Regions from separate parts of the Homo sapiens genome. Here region 1 is linked to region 2. Evidence: fine-mapped QTL for protein levels in blood plasma. A gene starts in region 2. The other region holds a variant in brackets. All regions are shown on one strand. Distances are between the middles of the regions.

What was found. PIP is the posterior inclusion probability: the model's chance that the variant is causal. The UK Biobank Pharma Proteomics Project read protein levels with antibody pairs (Olink). The fine-mapping took linkage between variants from a reference panel, not from the people measured, so its PIPs are less certain.
Region 1: its variant is fine-mapped to the plasma level of the CD276 protein (UK Biobank, PIP above 0.99). The variant lies in the coding sequence of CD276. If it changes the protein, the assay may bind it differently, which can mimic a change of level.

The regions. Positions count from the first base shown.
Region 1 is chr15:73,703,293-73,706,184 of GRCh38, forward strand. It overlaps CD276 (CD276 molecule), which reads left to right. Exons shown (of 10, transcript NM_001024736.2): 5 at 367-705; 6 at 884-1,180. Among named protein-coding and RNA genes, the nearest start is that of CD276, 20 kb to the left of the region's middle. The variant G/A (reference allele first, on the strand shown) is at 705.
Region 2 is chr15:73,682,627-73,685,526 of GRCh38, forward strand. CD276 (CD276 molecule) reads left to right here and starts at 1,757. Exons shown (of 10, transcript NM_001024736.2): 1 at 1,757-1,834. RefSeq lists enhancers at 646-1,154, 2,172-2,678 and silencers at 1,538-1,587, 1,708-1,837, 1,848-1,977, 2,138-2,187.

The DNA of each region.
Region 1 (2,892 bases), 21 kb after region 2:
TTCAAGGCTCTGGAAGCCTCTGGGAAGAATGGAGCCACATCTGGGTCAGCAGAGGGGTGGGCGAAGGAAAGGAGTCCTGATGGCAGGATTCACCAGGGCTGGAGCTGGTGAGAGTCACCTGCCCCAGGCCTGGCCCTGGGATTGGTCTGGTCAGGCCAAGACCCACCTGCTGTGATTGTTCTCAGAAGATTGGGGAGACTCCATATCTGAGAGTCCTCAGACTTAATCTGCTTTTGCATCTAAGAAGAAAATAGGAAGATGGAACAGGGTCTGGGAATTGATGGGGGAAGAGTTTGGGGGACTCGGGTGGTAGCCTAGAGAGTCCCATTTCTCCTCACCACCCTGCCCCTCTGACCCCGCCCCCAGGAGCCGTGGAGGTCCAGGTCCCTGAGGACCCGGTGGTGGCCCTAGTGGGCACCGATGCCACCCTGCGCTGCTCCTTCTCCCCCGAGCCTGGCTTCAGCCTGGCACAGCTCAACCTCATCTGGCAGCTGACAGACACCAAACAGCTGGTGCACAGTTTCACCGAAGGCCGGGACCAGGGCAGCGCCTATGCCAACCGCACGGCCCTCTTCCCGGACCTGCTGGCACAAGGCAATGCATCCCTGAGGCTGCAGCGCGTGCGTGTGGCGGACGAGGGCAGCTTCACCTGCTTCGTGAGCATCCGGGATTTCGGCAGCGCTGCCGTCAGCCTGCAGGTGGCC[G/A]GTGAGCACCAGGAGGGCGACGCCTTCCCCTTGGTTCACCCTCCATTCCCTCTGCAGCCCACCCTCTGCTGCACCACTGCTCCCAGAACCCCAGTGCTGATTCCTGTACTCAGCCCCATGCATCCTTTTCCTCCCCTGCCATTGCCCTGCCCTTGACCCCTGCCCTCTGTCACCTCCAGCTCCCTACTCGAAGCCCAGCATGACCCTGGAGCCCAACAAGGACCTGCGGCCAGGGGACACGGTGACCATCACGTGCTCCAGCTACCGGGGCTACCCTGAGGCTGAGGTGTTCTGGCAGGATGGGCAGGGTGTGCCCCTGACTGGCAACGTGACCACGTCGCAGATGGCCAACGAGCAGGGCTTGTTTGATGTGCACAGCGTCCTGCGGGTGGTGCTGGGTGCGAATGGCACCTACAGCTGCCTGGTGCGCAACCCCGTGCTGCAGCAGGATGCGCACGGCTCTGTCACCATCACAGGTAAGGGCAGATGAACAGCTGGGGAAGGACGGAGCGAGTAACTCCCTCTTTACTGGACCCTAACGTGGAATTTCCATAGGTTTGGGTGGCCAGAAGACTTTCAAAATCCCTTTCATAGACTTCAGGTGCTCACACTCTTCCCCACAAGTCCTTAAGGGACTCGAGCTGATAAGAACCATTTATAATGTTTGCCTTCCTAAGAGTGCTTTTCGTGGCACTTATGCTTCTTATGCAGAGGACAAGGTACCTGCCCGAAATTTGGAGGCATGGGCAGGAATTCTGGGGCAGCCACAAGGTGTGGCCCAGGGGACTTGGTGTGGGTGTGCTTTCCAGCAGGAACTCCTCTGAGTGGTAGGAAGGTATTCTGGGTCAGTGGGCGCCATCTGATTCTGAAGCCTGAGTGACAGCTGGCCCTCCCTAGTTAGTCCCCAACACCTGAGTCAACGTCAGCTCTTCTTCCTGCAGACTTGCGCTCCACCCAGGCAGCCGTTGGATGGGCAGGGGCTGTCTCTGCTGCCCCCGTGTGGTCAAACACCAGATAGAGGCCACCCCTTTAGTGATTGTTAGTCTCTGGTTTCCAGGTTCTAGCCTCGTGGGCACCTCTTGTGCCTGAGGGTGTGAAGAGGGTTGAGGTCAAGAGCCGCAGTCTCCATCTGTGTTTGGCCCTGAGAGGCCTCTGGTCAGTCACTTCCTGGGCCGACGTGCTCAGTCTGGCTCTTCAGTATCTCTCCCTGGCCAACTGAGCTTTCCCAGGGACCTCGCCCTGGTGCACAGTGAGGTCAGGACAGCAGGTTTTGTCTGTCTGGTTCTCCTCTTGTCTTCTGATGACTTCCATCTGCCCCTCAGCCCATCCAAGTTCTGATCTCACCCCAAGTTTCCAGGTCTGCATGCACCTCAGGACTCACTTATTCCTGTCCTCTCCCTCTTGAGACCTATGTGGTCCCCACTTCTGACAAGCTCGGAGCCAGGGCCCGTCACATCGTCTGCTTGGAGTTCAGGCTCACTCCTCCTTCTCTCTTACGTGTTTCCTTCTGGCAAGGTTGTGCTCCTTCTGCCCACCCCTTCCCCAAGATGGAAAACACTCCCTTCCTGTGCTCTCCAGGAGAGAGTAGCTGCCCTGAGCTCTTGAATGTTCTGAGACATGTCCTTGACCTTTTAGAGAACAGCATATGGTTTGGTGGTGAAAATGCTGTTCACAGGCGAAAAGAAGAAATAGAAGATAGAGTGATCTTGGCAGAGGATATGAAGCTTTCAGAGGAGGGAGGGTGGTAGTGAGGACACCTCCAGGGGCAAATGGGAGCTGAGAAGGCCTTGAAGGATAAGGGGTCTTTGTGGTCATTTGCACCCTGGGCTGAGCTGGATATTTGCGATGCTGTGCAGAAAGGACTTATGAGTATAAATGTGATTGCAAAGAGAATGTTTATCTCACCTAAGAGAAAATTCTCTATTTTAAACTTGAGTAGCTAACATTTAAAGTGATTTCAAAAAAATTTAGGGCTGGGCATGGTGGCTCACACCTGTAATCCCAGCACTTTGGGAGGCCAAGGCGGGTGGATCACTTGAGGTCAGGAGTTCGAGACCAGCCTGATCAGCATGGTGAAACCCTGTCTCTACTGAAAACACAAAAATTAGCTGGGCGTGGTGGCATGCACCTGTGGTCCCAGCTACTTGGGAGGCTGGGGCAAGAGAATTGCTTGAACCTGGGAGGCGGA
Region 2 (2,900 bases):
AGGCTACTCATCCTGAGACCTGTAAGGCCAGACCCAGGCTGGACGAGGCTGGTCAGGGCCTGGCAGGGCAGTGGGGAGCAGCGTGGAATGGTCCAGAGTTCCTGGAGGTGGTCAGGGACAAGACAGCTGGGCCTCTCTGCTGTCATCCCTAGGAGCAGTCAGCAATTACACAGACACAGCTGCTGTGTGATTCAAAGACACATATGCACGTAGACTCAAATACAGAGTTGCTTGAATGTGTTCACAAATATACACACCCGGCCGGGCGCGGTGGCTCACGTTTGTAATCCCAGCCCTTTTGGAGGCCAAGGCGGGTGGATCACAAGGTCAAGAGATCGAGACCATCCTGGCCAAAATAGTGGTGCGCACCTGTAATCCCAGCTACTCTGGAGGCTGAGGCAGGAGAATCGCTTGAACTCAGGAGGCGGAGGTTGCAGTGAGCCGAGATTGAGCCACTGCACTCCAGAGCCAGACTCTGTCTCAAAAAAAAAAAAAAGACAAAAACCCCCCACAAATATACACACCCATGCACCACCACCCCTACCCATACACCACACGCACACTTAAATTCAGAGGGCAAATCCCGGTTCCTCCCTTCATAGCTATGTGTCCCCAAGTTACTTAATCTCTTTGTATCTTAATTTCCTTATTTCCGATCTGTAAAAATGAGAATAATGGTATTCACCTCAATGAGTTGTTGTGAAGATTAAATGAGATAAAATGGTAAAGAGCTTACAACAGTGGCAACACATGCAGAGAGACGCACATGTTTTCATACTCATTTCCCAAGCCCTGCCCAGTACTGCCACTGGCACTGGTGGTGAGCCTGGCAGCAGTACAAGGTTGGAGTCCCTTCATCCCTTTGAGCCTTGGTTTTCTCATCTGTGAAATGGGAATAATAATATCTAGCCGGCGGGGCTGTTTGGAGGAACTAAAGAGGCCCAGCATGGAAAGCTCCTAACCTAACTCTGGCCCACAAAAGTCTCCCTACGTTTTAGCTGTCACTGTCCCTGTGAGGAAGAACAGATCCAAGAACAGGTGCAGGGATGGGCTGCACCACAGCAAAATCTGGACAGGCCCGACCCCCATCTCCTCCCAGGCTGGAGCGGGGCCCTGTAAGGACAGAGCCCAAGGCCACTAGGTGTCAGGCCTGTTGGAGCCAAGTCCGGCCAGCAGTCTGGGGTGGGGCTGGGGGCAGGGCTGGTCGGATGGCCGTGGGTGGAAGGAAAAGAGGAAAACCAGCTCAGTGGAAATTGTCCTGCGGTTGGCTCAGGCGCCCACGACACTGTATTTATAGAGAGCTCCTTGCAGCTCTTAATTCCTCGCAGTCGAGTTAACCCTTTCTGGGCTGTGGTGCCAGCATGGTGTGGAGGAAGAACCCAAGACTGGGGTTGGACAGCAGGATTCCAGCCCTGTTCTGCCGCCAGTCGATGACCAGTCAGTCACCTATCCCCTCTCGCAGAAAGGAAGATTCGGCTCTTGGAAGTGTGGGAACGGGGTGGGGGATGGGCAGCGCCCTGCTCCGGGAGCCGAGGGTTTTCCCCGCCAGGGTCAGGCCTGGGGGCGGGGCGGGGCGGGGGCGGGGGCCAGGCCGTGTGCTCTGCCCAGCGGGCTGGCTCAGGCCTCGGTCAGCAGCCGCCACCGCGGGGCCAATCCGGCCTCAGGGACGCACCGGAGCCGCCTTTCCGGGCCTCAGGCGGATTCTCCGGCGCGGCCCGCCCCGCCCCTCGGACTCCCCGGGCCGCCCCCGGCCCCCATTCGGGCCGGGCCTCGCTGCGGCGGCGACTGAGCCAGGCTGGGCCGCGTCCCTGAGTCCCAGAGTCGGCGCGGCGCGGTGAGTGCTGGCGTGGCGCGGGCGGCGCGGGGTGGGGCGGCCTTTGTCTGCTGCGGGCCGGGCCTGGATCCCGCGGAGGTCCGCACGTTCCCGCTCAGGGCTGCAGGAGCTGAGCAGGGCGCCTTCCCTCCGGGCTCCTGCTCCCCTGCCCTCCCCCAGGTCCGGGCGGCCCCCCTCGCACAGGAGTCCCGGGAACCGCGGGCGCCCCTCCTGCCCTGGGCTGTGGGGCCCGCGGAGAGCTGGGGGCTCCCGGATCCTACCCCGCCCCCCTTTCCTCGGGTTGAGAGGGGCCCGGGCGCCGTCGGACCTGCAGACCCCGGAAGCTGCGGACCGGGCCGGGTGGGTGAATGCGCTTTTGCAGGCCCCGGGTCTGGAGCGGGCATGGGGGCAGATCTGTCCCGTGTTGAAGCTTAACGAAGCCACCGGCCGGCGCTGGGAGGTTAGCGGGGTCTCGGGTCCTGCAGAGGAAAACGCCCAGCTCCGGGAGGGGAGCGGCGGGGAGGGAAGGCGAGTGGTTAGGCGTGTCCACTCTGCAGGGCCCAGCAGGGCGAAGGTGTGGGCGACTGGTGCACTTCCACAGGCAGCCGTGGGCAGCATGAGGGGTCAGATTCCGGGAAGGACAGGTAGAGACGGCTGGCAGGGGCCACGGGGTGAATAGGTGTTGGGGGTGGGGAGGGAATTGGGATGGGCAGTTTGGGCTTGGGAAGCCTCAGGGAGGTGGGGGGTGAGGTGGGATGGAGAGGAGATGCGGGCGACGGTGGAGGGAGGTGGGGACCCCGAGTGGGGGCACACTAGAAGGGAGGGGATTGAATTCCAGCGCCCAGGGCCCTCCCTGCGACCGTTTAGCTAGCGAATTGGCAGGTTTGGCAGCCTAAGGCAGGGGATTTATTTCTAAGCCAAACCTGCTCTAATGAGAAAAGCGTGATAGATGACTCAGATATGGGATCTATCACTGAGGGAAAACATTAAGCAAATAGTAAAGCAAAAAAGATTTGTGTGTGTGTGTGTGTGTGTGTGTGTGTGTGTGTGTGTGTGGCGGGTGGGGGGGTGTTAGTTGTCTTAATTT